5 linked regions of the Homo sapiens genome follow. The protein of the gene in region 1 purifies or fractionates together with the protein of each later gene. This does not show direct contact. Each region holds a gene or a part of one and is shown in the gene's direction. Other genes may lie near its edges. The genes, in order: SLC28A3, RAB18, OGN, ACBD3 and CDKAL1.

Region 1 (5,455 bases):
TAAATAAAACTAAAAAATAATAAATAAATGGGACTCTGTTCCACTTCTAGGCATACTCTCCAGCACTCCTGTGGACATCAACTGCCATCACGTTTTAGAGAATGCCTTCAACTCCACTTTCCCTGGAAACACAACCAAGGTGATAGCTTGTTGCCAAAGTCTGTTGAGCAGGTATTGTATTCTTGATTATAATTTCTTTATACTCCATTAATAATCAATCAAATCACACCTAAATATCCACTTACTTTTTTTTTTTTTTTTTTGAGACGGAGTCTTGCTCTGTCTCCCAGGCTGGAGTGCAGTGGCGCAATCTCCGCTCACTCATCGACTTAATTTTATAACTTTATGACTCTATTTAAAAGTAAGAACTTATGCAGTGATTCTAACCACCTTTCACTCTGACTTTTCTCAGATAAGGCTAGCAACTATAACACTAGCTAGTGCTACTCAAGCATTTAATATGCACCCAGCTGTGTGTTACGCACTTTGTATGAATTAGCTCACTTAAACCTTGCAACTACTGTATAAGTTGGGCACTATCTTTTTTTTTTTTTTTTCATTCCACAAAATTAAGGCTTAGGGAAGCTATGTCTACTCCAGCAAAATTAGCACAAGTACAAGTGAGATACAAAATTCAGGCTGATCTTCCTGCTAAGCCTATGCCCTTAACTGCTACCCTCTGCTGGCTCCCCTTCAAGGGGATCCAGGCTGTCCAGACAACACGATGATCGTCTATGGTGAACAAGAAACTACCAGTGACCCATGCCAGCCACCCCCACCCTGTACAGTTTTAATTTGCAAAATCAGTGTTCCCACACAAGGTGCCATCCTTAATGTGCAAGTGTTTTATAAGGATTGATTCTATCCTATCTTTGCTTGTTATGGAGGAAATAGGGAAAGTTCTTGAGGACACCCAGAATTTAGGAGCCAAAACAAATTCCCCAGTGTCTCTGTCCTTTAATCCACCCTAACCAGAATGTGAGCAAGAAAATCAGCTTCCTGCCCTGAACTATTTTTAATGTCATTGTCTGCTCACCTACTGTTTCTGCCATCTATGGCTCATGTAACTGTTTCTTTCCACTTTCCACCAGCACTGTTGCCAAGGGTCCTGGTGAAGTCATCCCAGGAGGAAACCACAGTCTGTATTCTTTGAAGGGCTGCTGCACATTGTTGAATCCATCGACCTTTAACTGCAATGGGATCTCTAATACATTTTGAGGTCAGCCACTTCTCCAGTGGAACTCTGAAGTACAGATGCTGAATTTTCTGCTTTGGAAAGAAAAAAAAAAGAAGCTATTGTCCACAGATTGATGCTTCCATAATGGAATCAGCTTTAATTGCAAGGAATGAAGAAAAACAAGAGTGGACCTTCAAAGCTACAACATTTTCCTCCTCCCCTCCCTCCCCACCAGCCCCTTCCCCACCAAGAACTGCTATGATGTCCCAAAGTGAGGTGTTGTTGATTCCAGTCTCAATGGGATTTTCTGACTTTAATGTTTGCAAGGCATTTCACCAGAATACAGCTATAAACGGCCGCTCCCAACAACTGGGCTCTGACTCACCCACACCCACTTAGTGTCCACTAAGTAGTCCAGGGTGACTCAGTTTAAGCACATCTCAGGTGAGGTCACTCTGCATATACCTTGGCTTACCTGAAATAGCCTGAACTTGAATCTCACATAAGGGAAAACTAGTCATCAATCACCAACTCATTGACTACCCTCAGGAAGTCCTGCAGAAATCAAGAGTCCTTGAGGAGAACACGTGGATCATACCAAAACCAGGGTTTAAATCCATTCTGCTTAAGAGTTCTATCAGTCAGTTTAACCATAAATTACGCTACAGAAACAAACAACCCAAAAACCTCAGTGGCTTACAGATTTATTTTTCACTCACATGTTTGTAATGATCCATCTTGGTTGTAATCCATATTGCTTCAGCACCCAGTCTAAAGGAGCAGCCTCTAAGGGGGGCATGTTGGTCTTAAGAGGGAAAAGAAAGGTGGGAACCACATGATGGCTCTTTCATCTTCCGCTAGGAAATGATACCCTTTACTTCCATGACATTCCATTAGCCAAAACAAGTCCTGTGACAGGCACGATGTCAGTCACCACAGTTAAATTATCCTGTCATAGGGAGGGATAGTGAATATTTTGCAGAAGTAATATGATACACCATAAGGGTACATAATATCCATGTCTCCCTTCAAGGAGCCATCCTGTTGTAGGCCATAACGGTAGGCCTATTCATCTGCACATTTGGTAATGTATTCCTGGTGACAAAGCAGCTACTCTTCAATCAAAAGCCGTGTAAGAAGCAGTTGAGGAAAAAAAGTCCTGGTTGAGCTCTGAAAACCTTGCGTTGATAATTTCATTGACCAGGATGGCATCAGTATCAAACTTGAAGAATGGGTGTCAGTGTCTAAGAAAAAGATTCCAGAGACAATGGTGGTGTGCTCTTTAACGAAATGCCCATCACCACTGCTCTTAATAGCATGAAGACCACATGCTGTGAGAAAACACAAACATCAATTACCAAGTCAAGAAACAGACACTGAATGTGAAAAAGGTTTTGAAATACCTTAAGTAATTTATTTTGTTTCTATTTTTCCTTCTGTTTGTGTACAAGAGTAATTTAAAAGAAAAAGCTATGTGAAAATAGTTGGGGTTTTTTGTGTGTTTTGTTTTTTGTGGTGGTGAAGGAGGAGGCCTAATGTCCAGAGGACTGTTTATCCCTGAAGTATGATATACTAAAATATTTCTTATTATTTGTATCAATTTTCCTTGGAGCTCAATGTGCCCTTGCAGTCTTCAGACTTTATTTTAGGAAAATATATTTGCATGTTTTCCCCCCATTCTCAATGTTTGGTGTCCTGGTTCATCATACCCCACAGAATGTTATGTTTATGTATCATACCATTCCTCTGTGGACATGCATTTACTTTGTTTACAGGTTTTGGTTTGGGGGTTCTCTTTTTCCTACTCTGGACAGTGCATGTACATTTACTTTGCATGCTGGTGCTTTTTTTTCTATAGCAATAGTGTCTGATAGACATATGCAAGTCACATGTAATTTAAGATCTAGTAGCCACGCTAAAAAACAAGTAAAATTAATTTTAATATATTTAACTCAATACATTGGAGATATTATTTCAGTAAGATATTTTTCATTCTTATGAAACTAAGTCTGTCTGGTTTGCATATCTCAGTTGAGACACTAAAGTTTTACTGATAATACTTAATCCATGTTTAGATTTCATAAAATCTAAATTTGCAAAGTAAATTTACATACCCATGTTGGTCTAAATGTGCTTAAAAGTTTTCCAATAACTGAAATGAGTATCAGTTTTAAATTTAAAAATTTGTTACTTGGTTACTCCATATTTCAGGTATTAGTGGCTACCATATTGGTCAGAGCAGATTCATAGGATGATTTCCCAGGTTTGAAGTGTGTGTATATTTCTGGTATTATAAGATGTCAGACTGGTTTTTGGAGAAATATGTTGTCTTAATTTTTACCTGCTTTGATATGACCTTTCTGTGTGTACGTGTGACATTTCTTTATAAATGCAACATGTTCACATAGGTCCTACGTTGATTCCTTATTAATGCTGTGCATCCTTGAACTGAGAAAGGGGGTGTTATTCCTGAGCTATATTATAAGAGGATAGTAAAGGCCAAGGACCAGGAAAATGAGCTGGTTAAGCCTCTTGAGCTTGTTACCCCCAGAAACCTCACCAATACCCTGTGAACGTCGTAAGTGGCCCTTCTCCCAGTGAAACAACCTAATGGAGGTTTTTGGTGCATGGTGATGTTTTTATTCCTCTTTAGTAGACATAGAAGCTGGAGGCTGCTTGTCTTCCCCAGTTTCTCCTTCACCCATGTACATATAGTGGGCAAAGATGGCATGCCTATGTTTTTCAGCTGTTTGAGCCCGCTCACTGTTGACAGATTGTTGCTGTTGGTCTGTGCTCCCCAACCTTGCCTCAAGCCAGGGCTGCAACATCTCCCTGGGAGAACTCCGTACTCTGTCCAGTCCACCCATGAAATCCAAAGCCCCTAGCCGCCTGTGTCTTCCCACTGGTAGTTTTCGCTAACCTGAAAGCCCCTTTTGGTATACAGTATTATGGTTCCAGATATGAGTGTTTCCTCATTTCAATGAAGATGGAAGTTTACTGCTGCTTATTCTCCGTGTTGTTTTCTATTGGTTTGCAAAAAACAGGGAGAGGGGCAGAAATGATATTTCTCTTCGCAATCCAGAAACTGGTTATAAACAAATTCTCTGACCCTGGAGAGGCCTTAGGGTCTCAGCCAAAAATAGATTTGAGTCATGGGATACACAGCATTGTCTGATTTTTTTTTCTTCCCATTGGTAAAGTCAACATATCCCAGCAGTTAGGTCTAAGTGACAGTCTCTGTAACTATGCAGATTACTAACAGGCATTCATTTTGCAAATGCTCCCACTTGATTGCTTTCATATTTCTGTAGTTTAATTAGGCTGGTAGGGCACTGTGAACAGCTTAAGATGTGCACTTGTCCAATAAGACTGATTTCCAGTTACAGAACAATTCCAAAAATCAAGTATGCTTATAAAGAAGGTATTATAAGCCAACAAGGACACAGTGTGCCAGGAAGGATTAAGTTACCCTGACTGTACGGGAGTGGGGCAAGGGGAGGCAATCACTCACATTTTACAAAGGTAGGAGCGTAGGACTCAATAACTGTCTCTGGTACAGGTACACCATGTGGTGCTAATGAACCATATGGTCCAAAGAAAGGCTGCTCTTTACAGCCTGTTACTTAATTTTGTTTTAAGCTCAAGCAGGAAGAAAAGCGTAGACTTTTCTTTTTCTAGCTCTAAAAACTACACAACCTTGTGATGACAATGATATTTTCCTTTATATCACAAAGGCAATGTGACTGCTCCTTGGTTATAGAATGAGTACTTTAAACCTGTTTATTAGTGGGCTACTTTGCATTTTCATTCCAGGAAACTTTGGAGATTAAACAGTGAACCTACATCAAGTCAGCCCTTCTTAACCATTATGCATTTTGCAAAATGGAAGGACAGTGGCTGGTATTAGGGATATAGCCTATAGCCACAGAACAGAGAAAAGTACTCAAGTGACAACCTTGAAATTTAGTCCTCTGGCCACTGACAACCAACCACTTTGCCATGAGAAACCAGGATTAGGAAAAAACTGAAGTCTTACAAGCCATATGAACACAAAGAATTAGAGCCTACCTCTTCCAAGTACTGGCCATGCTTCCAATAATATTCATAAAATAAGAGGATAGGAAAACCTTAGGTCATTCAGAAATGCTTCATCTCTCCTTCCACCTTCTGGTCATGCAGAACTGGCAAACCCACAGATCACTATGGCCAAGAGCAGAGTTGGGGCAGTATTCCCTGGTCTAAATGAAATCCTTTCAACTGCAGGGTGCCTATCTCATT
Region 2 (4,904 bases), on another chromosome or scaffold:
CATAATTGGATATGTTTCTTTGAAGTTTTAAAAAGACCATCTAGACTGAACTAACACTAAAGACAATTTTTAAGGGGAGGAGGAATGACGTGATATTTAGGAAAAAATTTTATTTTTCTTGTTTGTTAGTATAGATATTTATAAAATTTGAGGTTTCAAACTTTGGGCTTATTTTTAATGCCTCGTTTTTCCTTACTGGCTTCTTTTCGTTTTCCTGTCAATCCAACCATTCTGATCCCCGTTACTGTACTAGCTAGACCGCTCATGCTAGTGTCAAATAAGGTAGCATTAACTGTCAAAAATATCCAAGATGCTTAGTGTCTATGTTTGTCTCTCTCTGTGTCTCCCTTTCATCAGTCTATTTACCCACCCACATACCGATCTATCTATATCTGTCTATCTAAATATGATCGGTTATATATATATATGTATATTCTAAATATATACTGTTTTATATATCTATTTTTCACATAGACTGTGATAATTATACATATATGTTTGTAATATAAGAAATCATATTAGAACTGATCAGTCATCAAATCGAGACTTATTTCCACATGGTGGTTAAATGGTAAATGCTGTTTGTACATCAGTCACAGATTGAAAACAGCAAGTGTTCATGCATTGTATGATGTCATATTTCTTGGCATTCTCTGAATGGCACACTGTTTCTAATACACATTTATCCCCAAATAACAAATAATTGTGTAAGTGTGTTTAATGTTTTTATGTCAGTTTTTCCTAACATACAATACTTTAAATTTGTTAACCTGTTTGCCCCTTTCCCCCAAATATGTTTAATATCAATCAGAACGGTAATGTCTAACAGAAAACAATTTGGAAAATGTTGGACTAGAGTATGGTAAAATGTGTTGAACGATATAAGAATGTTGGCTTTTTCCATACTAAAGTGGGGGCCTGATTTCCATATGCTTTTCATGGTTAATTTATTATCCCTTTCCGGCCTTGCTGCTGCTTTGTGAAATCCGTAGATTAGAGTAGTATCTGAGACTTGCTGGTTGCAGTGAGATTTTTCTCTCATAGTTTCGTTTTGTTTTAAATTTATTTTCTAGTTCCTGCCTAATAAAAAGGCTGGCAGGTATTATTGAAGAGACATTTTTACCATAGGCCTATAAACATTTTTTAAAGAAGAGAGGTTTTCCCCCTGGCTGTAAGAATAATACAGGGTCATTCTAAAAGGGATAATTGAGACAATAAGAAGAGCAGAGAAGAACATCTATAAAAGTATACCACTGAATACATTTTAGTGAGCATTCTTTAAAATATCAAGGGATATGTATACATACCACTATACATACCAGTATGTGAGTTTTCCAAAACAAAGGGATTATATTATATCTTACATTTTTAAACCTGTTTGTCCTCCTTTCCTACCACCTCACCCCCACTCATAGTATGTGCTGTATCCGTTTAGATGGCCAGCTAGTATTCCGTTTCATAGCTGTACTTTAGTCAGCCTTCAGTGAGAGATACTTACATTTTTGCCAGCTTTTCACAAAGATTACAGCTCTTTGAGCATCCTGATTTATACGTCTGTGTGTACTTGTCCAGTTACTTTAGAATGTGTAGCTGGAAGTAGAAATGAATATGAAGTCTTCACATTAATGTACACCAAAAAGCCTTTTTTTTCAGTTTATACTCCCACCAATTGTATTCATATTCATTCTGCCACATCCTTATCTCTACTGTTATCATTCTTTCTGTTTTTGCCTCTGAGTGTTGCTGTTTTACTTATATTTGCATTTCTTTTGATAAGAGATTTTTGCCTGTTTATTGATCATTTTAAAAAATAAGTTTTCTTTTTACATATTTTACCCATTTTATACGTTAGCATTCATCTTTTTCTTCATTAAAGTCTTTATATAATAAAATTATTAGCTCTTTGTCATGTGGTACAATTTTCTAAGCTATCATTTGCCTTTAAAATCATGTATCAGTTGAATATATGTTTGTGTTCTTGTGTGTGTGTGTAATACTGCCATATGCTACAGATTTTTTTTTCCAGTTTGTCATTTACCTTCCAATATTGTTAAGGATGAATATGGGGATGGGGAGGTGAAGAGGAGGTAAAGGGTGTTCTTGTCATTTCAAGGTTTTAATATTTATATGGTTGGATCAGCTATTTTCATCATGGCATTTGGGTGTAACGTATTTAGGAAGGCGTTTCCTCTGTATTAGAAATATATGAATCCATAGTTGCCTAATTCTTCTATAGTTTTATTTATAAAATGAGTTTCTCTCCTACTTGGAAGCTTCTTCTAGGATGAAATAGAATAATTAAGCATAGCCCTGCCCCTCCTACCTCCTGAAAGTGCATACTCATCATGACCTTGTTTTCTTCTACTGCCTTTTCCTATGTCCTTGCTTCACTTTCACTCCCTACATCTATTATTAAGCCTTTCTAGATCTTTCCTAGCCCTGAGTTTATCTATATATCTTTCAGTAATTTCTTCTCTCCTTCCCCCATCAGAAAATAAAACTACAGGATAGAGACAAAAAGCTGTGCTTCATTTATCTTACAAAGATGTTATTATACCTACCACATATTCCTGTTTTGAAAACAAACACAAGCAACAATCTAACTTCTATTTAAGCATATACACTTTATAGTTACTATAAATCCTGATGCGATGCTATTGCACATGGTTCCCTCCACCCCCTAAATTATAACACCTATTTAAACACTTTTGTAAGTGAATCCAAAAATGGCAAGCCTCTAAACATCTGGCCTAATTATTAATAAATATTCACAAGCAAAGTTTCAAAGTCAAGTGTAATATTTCAACATTAAAACTTTCTTGCTATGGTTTTTACTTTTAAAACATCAGGATTTATGGATATTTTAACTGGAATTGCAGTTCTGATTTTTATGTTGTGTTTCATTAAGGCAGTTTTTGAAGTTGATCTCAATGAAGACCAGAGAGAACAAAGTTCATGTTCACTTGTTTTTCTGCCAGCTCTGGAAGTTATGGATACAGTTTCCTTATGCAAATAGAATAAACTTTCTTCCTGTTATCAAAAAGTCTTGGGGCTAAAATATTTCATACTTGGTCCTTGCCTCAAACTATTTGTTATGAATATAGAACAGTGTTCCATGTATGGAAAAATAGCTGCTTCTTAAATTTCCAAATTCACTAATTCACTGTATAGAAAAATAGCTGCTTCTTAAATTTCCAAATTCAGTAATTCACTGTTCCAAATCCAAGGCTTGTCTTTTCAGTAATGGCTTTTCCTTCTTTTTTTTTTTTCTTTCTCTCTAAAACAGATAGTCTGTACTACTAAAAGTTAAATGCTTAACATGGTGCAGTTCTCAAAGTTATAATGTATCTGGATACTGAATAATTTGAATATTACTAATTTGTCATTTTTTGCATGTAAGCAGATAGCTAGGATACGTTCTCATAATGATTTGTCATTTAAAAATATACATTTTTTATTGAGTATGAATCAGATTGTCTGAAATAGGTACTAGTACAAGGCTATGAAGAGCATTTCTAGTTTCTTATTATATATATTACCAATTGCTTCCTAAAAGTGGTGACACTTTTACTGATACACATAGTAATCATTTTACTATGATATGCATAGTAGTTACATCTTTTGGCTTCTAGTTGATTACTTTTTTTTTCCCTGCAAATTTGGGTTTTGATTACTTGAGCATAGTGATCAAAAAAGATCACTGGGCATCCATATACCGTTTCATTAATGATTAATGGACTACAATATTGACTTGTCTCATGTTATCAAAGTTATAATCTGCTTTATATAGCAAGTTCACTTTGCTTTAAACAGCTTTTAATTTATATTATTGTTCTTGAAAAGGTGAGTAAATATGCAAATTGAATAATTTTAAAATCCAAGGCAGGTTTTGTAAGAAACTTAGAGGCAGAGAGAATTTTTGTAAAGAGAAAAATTATTTATTTTATAAATTTATCTGTTCAGAACATTTACTTTAAATCTGTTAATTCTTCACTTAAGCATGGCAGGGTGGGGATTAGTTTCTGTGGTGGTAAGGATCTGGAAGGAAAGGCTTTCAAATTTATGTAAGTGTATCTGTGGAAGAGTGGTGAATGTTCAAAGTGGTTTACATTGAAACGTTACTTTCCTCTTAAGTTTCTCTTCTGGGGTTATAAATGACTGCAGATCCTCCCTACTGTCTTGCTGAAGCCCCTCACGCCCCTGGTTTGAATTCTTCTCCAATCTTATAAACCTCTTACAGGTTATTCTAACATTTTTATATCTGGGGGAGCTTCTGCTTGTCCCATAACAAACCCTCATTTACAGCAGTGGGACTGGTAGCTAAGTTGAGGTTTGATACATGTTTTTACTTTTACTTTTCTTTAGGTTACTTTGCATCAGCAGACTGCAAACTTTTTCTTAAAGAGCCAGATAGGAAATAGTCCAATCCTGAAGTGGGCCATGTGGCAATACGTAAGCAAATAGGCCTGCTGTGTTTCAATAAAACTTTATTTAATAAAACAGGTGGTGGGCTGAGCTGCTTTGTATAATCTTAGGTACCTTGAATCCATAGTCCAAGGATGGTAGAAAGACAAGAGAGAGAAGGAATTGGGCCCGGAAGTAAAGGCTTGTTAAATAGGTTCATTCTTTTTTTTTTTTCTCAACAAATTCTGAGCAACTGCCTTTTTTCAAGAATTGGTCTCAGCACAATGGTTAAACTGGTGATTAAACAGATGAGTCCCTGCTTTATGAAATTTACATTTTCTACCTAGTGTACATTGTTCACTAACCCTAACATGAGTCAGAAATAACATGTAATAAAGAATGGCTTGGTTATATGCATTTTCTCAAAAGGAGATACATAGAAAACACTTAAAAGAGCCCAACCTAAAAATCTGTTACCTAAAGTAAGACATCCCATAATT
Region 3 (2,406 bases), 8.1 Mb from region 1:
TTCTTCTTTTATGATTCATACGTTATTCCTTATAAAGTAAGAACTTTGTTTTCCTCCTATCAAGGCAGCTATTTTATTAAATTTTTCACTTAGTCTGAGAAATAGCAGATAGTCTCATATTTAGGAAAACTTTCCAAATAAAATAAATGTTATTCTCTGATAAAGAGCTAATACAGAAATGTTCAAGTTATTTTACTTTCTGGTAATGTCTTCAGTAAAATATTTTCTTTATCTAAATATTAACATTCTAAGTCTACCAAAAAAAGTTTTAAACTCAAGCAGGCCAAAACCAATATGCTTATAAGAAATAATGAAAAGTTCATCCATTTCTGATAAAGTTCTCTATGGCAAAGTCTTTCAAATACGAGATAACTGCAAAATATTTTCCTTTTATACTACAGAAATGAGAATCTCATCAATAAATTAGTTCAAGCATAAGATGAAAACAGAATATTCTGTGGTGCCAGTGCACACTACCTTCCCACCCATACACATCCATGTTCACTGTAACAAACTGAATATTCACAATAAAGCTTCTGAGTAACACTTTCTGATTACTCATGATAAACTGACATGGCTAACTGCAAGAATTAAATCTTCTATCTGAGAGTAATAATTTATGATGACTCAGTGGTGCCAGAGTAAAGTTTCTAAAATAACATTCCTCTCACTTGTACCCCACTAAAAGTATTAGACTACACATTACATTGAAGTTAAACACAAAATTATCAGTGTTTTAGAAACATGAGTCCGGACTGTGTAAGTAAAAGTACAAACATTATTTCCACCATAAAGTATGTATTGAAATCAAGTTGTCTCTGTGTACAGAATACATACTTATTCCCATTTTTAAGCATTTGCTTCTGTTTTCCCTACCTAGAATGTCAGATGTTTTTCAGTTATCTCCCCATTTGTCAAAGTTGACCTCAAGATAACATTTTTCATTAAAGCATCTGAGATCTAAGAACACAATTATTATTCTAACAATGATTATTAGCTCATTCACTTATTTTGATAACTAATGATCACAGCTATTATACTACTTTCTCGTTATTTTGTGTGCATGCCTCATTTCCCTGACTTAAACCTCACTGAGAGCGCAAAATGCAGCTTTATACTTTTTACTTTCAATTGCCTAGCACAATAGTGAGTACATTTGAATTGAATATATAATAAATATTGCAAAATAAAATCCATCTAAATAGAAGGGTTCTGTTTTATTTGGAAAAATTGAATCTTTAAACTATCATAATCTTGAATGACTGTCATCTTTCTAGTTTTCAGAAAAATAATGTATTCCTATATTATTTTTATGATAAAACTTATGGAGCAAAACACCATCAAATAACTCTCAAATTAAGAAAAAATTCAAAAGTCAGTAGTTTTAGATAAGATAATGATAAGGGAGAAAGAACATTGGTAAAAGGTATGAATTCCAGAATTAAAGAAATAATTTGGGGATTTCTAGATAAGAGGATATATATGAACATGCATACCTTACACCTTCATATACACAACCTTAAATCACAAATAAAACAAAATAAACAATACAAATTATACCACCAAGATTCAGAAGATATCAGACGAAATAATTAGAGAAAGTAAAAATATGCTGTCTCCATTATATTCATAATGTTTCATTCTTGACACTAATAATTAGAGGCTTTAAATTTTTAAATGATTTACTTTTTACTAACATTGCTGAAAAAAACTAAAGACATACATAAATGGAAAGATGTCTTGTGTTTATGGATGGTAAGATTTAATGTTGTTAAGACAACAATACTATCCAATATGATATGCAGACTGAACACAGTTGCCATCAAAATCTCAATGATGCTTTCACACAAATAAAATGGAACTTCAAGAGACCCCCAAATAAAGAGAAGAATCTTGAAAATAAGAATAAAGATAGAAGACTCACATTTCCTAACTTCAACATTTACAACAAAGATACAGTAATGAAAACAGTGTGTGGCTGGGCGCAATGGCTCACACCTGTAATCCCAGCACTTTGTGAGGCTGAGGCGGGTGGATTACTTGAGGTCAGGAGTTCGAGACCAGCCTGGCCAACATGGTTAAACTCTGTCTCTATTAAAAATTCCAAAAAATTAGCCGGGTGTGGTGGCGGGTGCCTGTAATCCCAGCTACTGGGAGGCTGAGGCAGGAGAATCGCTTGACCAGGAGGCGGAGGTTGCAGTGAGCCAAGATCGCATCACTGCACTCTAGCCTAGGCGACAGAGCAAGACTCTGTCTAAAAAAAAAAAAAAAAAAAAAAAAAGGAAAACAGTGTGGTACTAGCGTAAGTACAGACATATAGACCAACAGAATAAATTAAACAGCCCAGAAATAAACCCTTCCAAATAGGGTCAGATACTTTTCAACAAAAGTACAAAGACCATTCAG
Region 4 (4,335 bases), on another chromosome or scaffold:
TCAAGACCAGCCTGGGCAACATGATGAAACCCTGTCTCTACCAAAAATACAAAAAACTAGCTGGGTGTGATGGTGTGCACCTGTAGTCCCAGCTACTTGGGAGGCTGAGGTGGGAAAATTGCTTGAGCCCAGGAGGTAGAGGTTGCAGTGAGCTGAGATCAAGTCACTTCACTCCAGCCTGGGCCACAGAGCCAGACCCCATCTCAAAAAAAAAAAAAAAAAAAAAAAAAAAAAGATGGCTGGGCGCAGTGGCTGACACCTGTAATCCCAGCACTTTGGGAGCCTGAGGTGGGTGAATCACCTGAGGTCAGGAGTTCAAGACCAGCCTGGCCAACATGGTGAAACCCCATCTCTACTAAAAGTACAAAAATTAGCCAGGCATGGTGGCACATGCCTGTAATCCCAGCTACTTGGGAGACTGAGGCAGGAGAATCGCTTGAACCCGGGAGGTGGAGATTGCAGTGAGCTGAGATCGTGCCATTGCACTCCAGCCTGGGCGACAGAGCCAGACTCCGTCTCAAAAAAAAAAAAAAATGAAAGAGCTTTGTGAATAAGAATTCTCTGTTCAGAAGTTGGTTGAGGTAATGTATTTCTCCTGGCTTGCCTATTAGAGAGCTTCTAAAAGGTGGTTACTGCCTAGTCTGAACCCTCAGCTGATGATAGTTTTGGGGTTATATTGGTGTTGGGAAGATCACTAGTGAAAATGGCAGGGGTTCATTTCTAGAGGTAAGAACCTTAATATCCTTGATCTTAGTTCTAATATGTCCCTCAAATGAAAGATGGCATTCCCTGTACTTGTACCATTCCTAATCATAAAATGATTTGCAGCTAAAACATTTTAGCCTCACAGCAGTGAAGCTTTATCATTCCTAAGAATTGTTCATTACATGAGCGTCACTTCATCCCATTTAAAGATTTAGCTCACAAATTGTATTTGTCCATATGCCTTAGAAGCTACTGTCCTACCGTGTCTTGTATTTCATATGGTAGAAGAGTCTGAGTTTTTTGGGTTTTGGTTTGGTTTTTCTTCCTTAGGTCTTGAAAGGTAGACAGAGGAGTTTGCTTTCTCTGAAGAAGCATGGATGGTAACACATCCTCCTGTTTTAATTCTCCATTTTCTTCATTGTTTACAGGTCCTAAACCTTGGCTTAAATTCATAAAAGATGCCTTTTCATCTATCCCAGTAATCTTTAGTTTTATAGATTTAAAACAAAATTTGAGTCTTGAATCAATGGACCAGTCTATTTCTTGGATGTCAACAATAGTGTACATTTTGGATGGTTCTGTATTTCTCATTTGCATGTGAAACATGCTTAATTATAGGTATTTCTGTGGTTAAGTAAATCTGGTTTTGACCTACCTTTATAAGAGTGCCATCTGCTTTTTTAAAATAAACTTTTAATTTTAGAATAGTTTTAGATTTACAGAAAAGTTACAAAGATAGCACAAAGAGTACCCATATACCCTGCACCAAGTTCCCTCTGTTGTTAGCATCTTACATTGTACTGTGGTGCACTCATCACAGCTAATGAAACAATATTGATACATTGATTCATTAATTAACTAAAGTCCATATTTATTCAGATGTTTTTAGTTTTTACCTAATGTTCCAAGATCCTTTCCAGGATGCCACATTATAGTCAGTCATCATATCTCCTTAATCTGCTATAGACGGTGAGAATTTCTCAAACTTACCTTGTTTTAAATTCCTGATAGTGGCCATTGACAAGCATCACTCAGTGTGTTGCCAGAATTCACTCTGCCATGTTATAAACCTGAAAATCCATGCCTGTAGTCCCAGTCTCTTAAACAAACAAACAAACAAAAACAACAACCATAAACCCGAAAGTCTTGTCTTCTGTGCTGAATACTCCCTTGACCTCTTTGAGCTGGTTTGTATTAAATATGTTAAACTGTGACTTCGAAGCTGGTTCATAATTTTCTCATTCCTGTAGGTTTCTAGAGGCATTTTTTTTCCTAACCTCATAGCATTACAGTTCAAAAAACTCTTAACCGGGGCAAACCTTTCAGAGCCCATTTTTTGCCACTTAGATCATCTCTGGGTTAAATTGGCCTAGTGAAAATAATTGAATTTTCAGAGTATCTCTGAATGCCTATCTCTCTACTATGATTTTTTCATTTTACTGCTTATATTTAAGATATACAGAAAGCAATAGTCCTCACAAATCATCTTCCATCTTTCTAAAATGGGGAGGACTCATATTGGTCAGAAGGAGGATGATGAGAGCAACATTTTCATGTTACTCAGATGAGTGAAATTCCTGAGGATGAATTAGGAATTGAATGGCTATGGAAAGGGGAAAATGGGACCTTGAAATAGGAATGGTAGTAAGCACAGAAAGAGATAGGATGCTGACCACTGCTACCACTAGATGTTCATCACTGGGCTCCCAGGGCTCAGAACAGGGTTTGGTGTATAGCACATACTTAGGTATTTGAATGAATGAGTGAATGAATGAATGAATGAACGAACTAATAAATGCTCACATGCACATAACTTGTTAAATGGTTCAACAGAATTCCCAACAAGAGCAGTTTCTCAAAGAAAGGATAGGCTGGGCACGGTGGCTCACGCCTGTAATCCCAGCACTTTGGGAGGCCGAGGCAGGTGGGTCACAAGGTCAGGAGATTGAGACAATCCTGGCCAACATGGTGAAAGTCCATGTCTACTAAAAATACAAAAATTACCTGGATGTAGTGGTGCACGCCTGTAATCCCAGCTACTTGGGAAGCTGAGGCAGGAGAATCGCTTGCACCCAGGAGGTGGAGGTTGCAATGAGCTGAGATCACGCCGCTGCACTCCATCCTGGGTGACAGAGCAAGACTCTGTCTCCAGAAAAAAAAGAAAGGATAGATTTTAATTGCCTGATGCAAGTGTGGTTTTCCTGAATCTGTTCATTGACTTGTCTCTGTTCTTACAGAAAACATCGGTTGTGAAGAGAAAGCCAAAAAGAATGCCAACAAGCCTTTGCTGGATGAGATTGTGCCTGTGTACCGACGGGACTGTCATGAGGAGGTGTATGCTGGCAGCCATCAATATCCAGGGAGAGGAGTCTATCTCCTCAAGTTTGACAACTCCTACTCTTTGTGGCGGTCAAAATCAGTCTACTACAGAGTCTATTATACTAGATAAAAATGTTGTTACAAAGTCTGGAGTCTAGGGTTGGGCAGAAGATGACATTTAATTTGGAAATTTCTTTTTACTTTTGTGGAGCATTAGAGTCACAGTTTACCTTATTGATATTGGTCTGATGGTTTGTGAACTCTTGCTGGGAATCAAAATTTCCTTGAGACTCTTTAGCATTCATACTTTGGGGTTAAAGGAGATTCCTCAGACTCATCCAGCCCTTGGGTGCTGACCAGCAGAGTCACTAGTGGATGCTGAAGTTACATGAGCTACATGTTAAATATTTAAAGTCTCCAAAATAAAACACCCCAACGTTGACCTTACCCGGCTGATGGTTAGCCCCTTGCTGCCTGCTCCATGTGTCTTATGAGAGCCCGTAGTTACAGTGTCCTCTAATTTGAAATCCATAAGTTAACAAGTCTATATCAGGTGCAGCTGGCTTTGATTAAAGGCCATTTTTAAAACTTAAAAACTCAACACCTCACAGATTATAATAGAAAAAGAAATGGCCTCAGTTTGATCTCGTTCAGAATGACCCAGATTGTTTCTGCTTTGGGTGCAGCTGTTTAGTTCAGAGTTATATTACAGAGAATTATTTTCTGAGATAATCTTAAACTAGAATGTTCAAAACTAATTGATAATTGAAGTATCAAGATACGTAGAACACCTCAGAGATTTTTCTTCAGGAACTTCCACAAACTTTGAATCCTTGTATCTTTATTTGGTATTCATACTACTAGTAGCAAAATACAGGTTTTTTGTTTTGTTTTGTTTTGTTTTGGCTTCATAGAGTATCTCAAATTGAAACTTTTCTGCACAAAGAATAAAATTAAGGATTTTATAAACTCAAATTGGCACCTACTGAATTAAAATACATAAAATCATTTAAATATAATTCAGCATATGGGAAGTAACATTGCACTAATATGGAAATCACTGCCAGAGACAGTCTATTTTCTTTTAATTTGTTACTACTTAGTCACAAACCCCACATTATTCCAGTTTGGAATTACTTATTAAGGAGAATTGGAAATACATATGCCCATGCTTAAATTTTATAGCTTTAATTTGTGTTATTTCTTTATTGACGGGAAGAGGTACATCTTTTTTTCCTTACTGAAAACAAATATGGATTAATTGCCTCAAATTTGTATAAGTGATTGGCTAGTGATTCTTGTTTTCAGAAG
Region 5 (5,554 bases), on another chromosome or scaffold:
ACTCAACCTGTATGTAGATTTTTTTTTTATTTGAATGATTTTAAATTTGGCAAGGTAATTGGTTAAAAAGAAATGAGATGTCAAATTGGATGTTCCTAGAAGATAGCCTCGGGCAATAGGGATCTCTTGGGTATTACTGTAGTTGATATGTAAGTCTGTGTTATTTCCAAATAAAATTTTTACCAGAGTTTGTGATTCTTATGAGACAGTAGTATTTTGGACATTTGAATTTTCTTAGCTGATTTTCAAATACCTGTGGATCAGGTAAAGGCAGTGGGCACAAATAAATTATTGCCCTATTTACGCTATTATAGTAGATCTCTAGTCCGTGAAATTTTGATACAACCTAACCAGAAAGGATAATGTAATTATATGGTTTTAATAAGCCTATATTTGTTTATCTAGTCAACTGCTGAACTTTATAATCTGCTTATTTTGTTGGGAAACTAAGCTTTTAAATTCTTGGAATTTAAAATTTGCTTATATTTTAATGACTGAAGTTTATAAAATTTGTCCTAAATGTGTCCTTAAGGTAATTTTTATTTACTTATAAATTATTAGAGCAATCCAAGTTGAAAGTCCTTTTTTCCCCTAAAAGTTATTTTTAGAACTCTGATTTTATAGAGTGCTTTTAATAATGCTTTAGGATGACGGTTTTTAACTTTGATTAAGTTACTTATATCTGTAAGTTTTAAGGAAGCTACAGATTGCAACTAGTATGTAGGAATCTGTAAACAGACATACTTTTCTTTATTTGCCATTGCTGCTAGAACCACTTTCTTTCCTATTGTTATTTTTGTGTACCTTTCCAGGAGTTGAACTTAGTAAGTTAGTAGTATGAATTTAAAATGCAATTCAGAGAAAAAGGATATTTTTTTATGTGGAGTGTTAACTTTTTAGAATTCTGTGGTTATTTTATCTTGATTTTAGACTTTTGATACAACAACAGATTTTGAGTTAAGTTGGTGCGTTTAATGAATAGCTTTTGAATGGATTGTAGTGAGTTTGTTTTTTGTGTAATATATCTTAAAATCATCTAGTGGTTTTTATTTTAAAAATAACTCAATGAGGTTGGGTGTAGTGGTGGCTCATGCCTGTAATTCCAGCACTTTGGGAGACAAGGTGGGAGGATCACTTGAGCCCAGGAGTTCAAGATCAGCCTGGACAGTATAGTGGGCCACTGTCTCTACAAAAAATAAGAAAAATTAACAGGTGTGTTGGTGCATGACTGTAGTCCCAGCTACTTGGGAGGCTGAGATGGGAGGATCCCTTAGGCCTGGGAGGTTGAGGTTGCAGTGAGCTGTGGTCACACAGCTGCACTGCAGCCTGGGCAACAGAGCAAGACCCTGGATCAAAAAAAAAAAAAATCACTCAATGAAACTTACTTTTTTTTTTTTATTGATTCCTTAACAGCACTATTCCAGGCATACAGAAAATTTGGATACGAACATGGGGTTGTTCTCATAATAATTCAGATGGAGAATATATGGCTGGACAGCTAGCTGCTTATGGCTATAAAATTACAGGTAATGAGATCTATAATATATTTTATTGATTAAATTTTTCAGAATTAAGCTTTTAGAGATAAATAGCCTAGCAGTTAAAGGGTATTTTAGCATGACAGTGATTTTAAGGTGAAACAGATAGTTATTACACATTTTGTAGATAACCATGGATGTCATATTTAAAAAAACTTTTTATTTTGAAATAAGTTTAGACTTTCAGAAAAGTAGTAAAATTAGAGAGTTCACATATGCCCATCACCAAGCTTCCCTTGATATTAACATCTTACGTAGTTGTAATATCATTAATAAACCAGGAAATTAACATTAGTGCATTTCTGTTATCTAAACTGTAGATCGTATTTGAATTTTACCAGTTTTCCCATTAACTTCCTTTTTCTGTCCCAAGATCTAATGTTGGGTCCCACCTTACATTTAGTTTCATGTCCCCTTAGTTTCCTCCAATCTGTGACAGTTTCTTAATTTTTTCTTGTCTTCTGTGACCTTGACACTTCTGAAGAAAACATTTCCTTGATATTTCTGATGAAAATGATTATTATGTAGAATGTCCTTCAACTTGAATTGGTCTTTTTCTCATGATTAGAATGAGGTTCTGGGTTTTTGGCAAGCAGAGAACAGAAGCGATACTATATTTTTCTCAGTGCGTCATATCGGGGTCATGATGTCAGTGTGTCTTATACTGGTACACTAACCCATGTCTGCTAGGTTTCTTTCCAATACAGTCACTGTTTTTCTCATTACAACTAATAAACATCCTATTTCTCCTCAACCTTTGGCCTGTTAATTTTAGTATCTACTGGTGGATCTTGTCTGCAACAGTTATTACTGTGGTGTTTACTTAATGGTGATTTTCTGCTATCTTGTTTTCTTTACATTTATATTTATTTATTTATTTATTTATTTATTTATTTATTTATTTACTTTGAGATGGGGTCTCTTTGTGCCCCATTCTGGAGTGCAGTGGCACGATCTCAGCTCACTGCATCCTCTGCCTCCCAGGTTCAAGCGATTCTTCTGCCTCAGCCTCCCAAGTAGCTAGGATTACAGGCATATGCCACCATGCCTGGCTAACTTTTGTATTTTTAGTAGATACGGGGTTTCACCATGTTGGCCAGGCTAGTCTCGAACTCCTCAGCTCAAGTGATCCACTCGCCTCGGCCTCCCAAAGTGCGGGGATTACAGGTGTGAGCCACTGCGCCCAGCCTCCTCTTTACATTTATTAATTGGAGTTTTTCTCTAAGGAAGAGCTGTCCATTCTTCTCCATCTTAATTAATTAATTAAATTTTTTTTTTTTAGACAGAGTCTCGCTTTGTTGCCCAGGCTGGAGTACAGTGTTGTGATCTCGGCTCACTGCAACCTCTGCCTCCGGGGTTCAAGGGATTCTCCTGCCTCAGCCTCCCAAGTAGCTGGGATTACAGGCATGCGCCACCACACCAGGCTAATTTTTTGTATTTTTTAGAGATGGGGTTTCGCCATGGTAGCCAGGCTGGTCTAGACCTCTTGATCTCAGGTGATTTACCTGCCTTGGCCTCCCAAAGTGCTGGGATTACAGGCATGAGCCACTGCACCTGGCCCGTCTTAGTTATTTCTATCAGTACAGACTCATGGATATTTATTTTATCCTGTGGATATAGTCTGATACTATCATTATGTATTATGCTGCTTGTTGTTCCAATCTTGGCCATTAGGATCTTGTTCAGGCTGGCTCCTGTGTCTTTTCAGCATGCCGGCATCTTTTTTTTGAGCACTTCTTTATTTCCTGGCACCACAAAATGTTCTAATCTCTCATATTTTCCCTTCCCCAGTCTTGGAAGCAACCAGTTTTCCAAGGAGTCCTGATTTTTTTCATTAAGAGAATGGCATTTAGAAAAGGGGATCTGGGCAGTCAATATGCTTGCTCGTTGCCACCGTGAGGTGTCGCTGTTGTGAGGTCCTCTTGGGGGATGGAGCTAGGAATTATGTATGAATAGTAACCCACACATATGCACGCATCTGTAGCTATTTCTGTATCTATTATGTGTACTAAATGGAACTATAATTCGAATGCTTTGTGACAGGCACTGACCCGGTGCTTTATGTATGTTATCTTGCTTAGTCCTTGAGTAGGAGGAAATATTGGCACCCCTACTTTACAGTTGAGAAAGGAGAGGTTGTGTCTTTTTTTTTTTTTTTTTTTTTTTTGAGACAGAGTCTTGCTCTGTCTCCCAGGCTGGAGTGCAGTGGCGCGATCTTGGCCCACAGCAAGCTCCGCCTCACGGTTCAAGGGATTCTCCTGGCTCAGCCTCCCGAGTAGCTGGGACTTCAGGTGCCCGCCACCATGCCTGGCTAATTTTTCATATTTTTAGTAGAGACAGAGTTTCACCGTGTTAGCCAGGATGGTCTCAATCTCCTGACCTCGTGATCCACTCGCCTTGGCCTCCCAAAGTGCTGGGATTACAGGCGTGAGCCACTGTGCTCGGCCTGAGAGGTTGCGTCTTATCTTAAATCACATATGCAGTGAAGTCCTTTGTCACTTCCAAACACTGCTCCTGACCATTGTTCTGTACCTCATGGCTGCCTTTGCATGTGTAATTGGCAAGTCCTAGCTATAAGACAGCATGTAATGATTAAGGAGGATTGGAAACCTAGTCCTTGTATCACCCTTTTTCCTTCAGTAACTAAAATATCTTTTTTTTTTTTTTTGAGACGGAGTCTCGCTCTGTCACCCAGGCTGGAGTGTAGTGGTGCAATCTCAGCTCACTGCAAGCTCCGCCTCCTGGGTTCATGTCGTTCTCCTGCCTCAGCCTCTCGAGTAGCTGGGACTACAGGTGCCCACCACCATGCCTGGCTAATTTTTTTGTATTTTTTTAGTAGAGACGGGGTTTCACCGTGTTAGCCAGGATGGTCTCGATCCCTTGACCTCGTGATCCACCCGCCTCGGCCTCCCCAAGTGCTAGGATTACAGGTGTGAGCCACCGCGCCTGGCCTAAAATACCTTATGTTATTAATTTTGTATTTTTTATAACATATTCTTTAGATGGCAAAATGAGTCTTAATATTTCTGTCCTTTAAGTTAAAAATGGTCAAAATATGCTTTCAGAATTACTTCTCTATATTCATTAGTAATTTTTAGTATAATTTAGCCTGGGCTTGCCTTACCATATTCTGATGGTGTAGTTTGAGTATTAAGAAAATAGAATTTATTTATTGATTTATATTTATTTATTTTTGAGACAGGTCTCACTATGTTTGCCCAGGCTGGCCCCAAGCTCCTGGGCTCAAGTGGTCCTTCTACCTCAGCCTCCCAAGTAGCTGGGACTACAGTTGTGTGCCTGGCTAAGAAAATACCCTAAGGAAAAAAAAAAAAAAAAGGCTGGGTGTGTTGGCTCATGCCTGCTGTAATCCCAGCACTTTGGAGGCCGAGGTGAGAGAGGGTGGGAGGGTCGCTTGAGCCCAGTAGTTTGAGACCAGTGTTGGCAACATAGTGAGACCCTGGCCCTGCAAAAATATTTAAAAAGTAGCCAGGTGTGTTGGTCTTTGCCTGTAGTCCCAGTTACTTGAGAGGATGAGGTGGCAGGATCGCTTGAGCCTGAGAGGTAGAGGCTGCAGTGAGCTGTTCTGTGCACAGCACTTCAGCCTGGGCAACAGAGTGAGATCCTATCTCAAAAAAAAAAAGGCCCTGAGATAATTTCCTAAAACATAAGGAAAATCAGATATTGACTTTTTCTATGTCATATTAAATATCTAATACATTTTAATTAAATTTTAATCCATTAGCAGTTTGTGTTTGGTCTTGTAACAGTACTTGTCTGTATAAAATAACAGTCCTGGTATGTTTATACAAGAATATTAGGTTTTGTTTTACACACCTAATTTTGTTTCTTATTTGGGAATAGTTAAAAAGAGAAAATAAGGAAGTAATTACTTGAATGGGAATTTTTTTTTTTTTTTTGCTAATGTAGCATAGTCTGTTGCTTTTATATATTATATGTATTTGTATTAATTTTATAAACTATTGATTGTTCCTACTTTAGAAATTCATAGTTGTTAA

What was found.
Region 2: the proteins of SLC28A3 (region 1) and RAB18 purify together in Homo sapiens (affinity purification with mass spectrometry; one large-scale study listed by BioGRID and IntAct). This does not show direct contact.
Region 3: the proteins of SLC28A3 (region 1) and OGN purify together in Homo sapiens (pull-down; one study listed by IntAct). This does not show direct contact.
Region 4: the proteins of SLC28A3 (region 1) and ACBD3 purify together in Homo sapiens (affinity purification with mass spectrometry; one large-scale study listed by BioGRID and IntAct). This does not show direct contact.
Region 5: the proteins of SLC28A3 (region 1) and CDKAL1 purify together in Homo sapiens (affinity purification with mass spectrometry; one large-scale study listed by BioGRID and IntAct). This does not show direct contact.

The regions. Positions count from the first base shown.
Region 1 is NC_000009.12:84,273,981-84,279,435, reverse strand, and holds the end of SLC28A3 (solute carrier family 28 member 3), read left to right. Parts: intron 1-50; coding exon 51-171; intron 172-1,036; exon of another isoform or gene 1,037-1,091; coding exon 1,092-1,218; 3' UTR 1,219-3,979; downstream 3,980-5,455. UniProt on the Homo sapiens protein: Sodium-dependent, pyrimidine- and purine-selective. Involved in the homeostasis of endogenous nucleosides.
Region 2 is NC_000010.11:27,527,164-27,532,067, forward strand, and holds part of RAB18 (ras-related protein Rab-18), read left to right. Parts: intron 1-4,365; coding exon of another isoform or gene 4,366-4,452; intron 4,453-4,904. UniProt on the Homo sapiens protein: The small GTPases Rab are key regulators of intracellular membrane trafficking, from the formation of transport vesicles to their fusion with membranes.
Region 3 is NC_000009.12:92,382,768-92,385,173, reverse strand, and holds the end of OGN (mimecan isoform 2 precursor), read left to right. Parts: 3' UTR 1-1,906; downstream 1,907-2,406. UniProt on the Homo sapiens protein: Induces bone formation in conjunction with TGF-beta-1 or TGF-beta-2.
Region 4 is NC_000001.11:226,145,429-226,149,763, reverse strand, and holds part of ACBD3 (Golgi resident protein GCP60), read left to right. Parts: intron 1-1,695; exon of another isoform or gene 1,696-1,761; intron 1,762-2,942; coding exon 2,943-3,154; 3' UTR 3,155-4,335. UniProt on the Homo sapiens protein: Involved in the maintenance of Golgi structure by interacting with giantin, affecting protein transport between the endoplasmic reticulum and Golgi. Involved in hormone-induced steroid biosynthesis in testicular Leydig cells.
Region 5 is NC_000006.12:20,547,180-20,552,733, forward strand, and holds part of CDKAL1 (threonylcarbamoyladenosine tRNA methylthiotransferase), read left to right. Parts: intron 1-1,413; coding exon 1,414-1,526; intron 1,527-5,554. UniProt on the Homo sapiens protein: Catalyzes the methylthiolation of N6-threonylcarbamoyladenosine (t(6)A), leading to the formation of 2-methylthio-N6-threonylcarbamoyladenosine (ms(2)t(6)A) at position 37 in tRNAs that read codons beginning with adenine.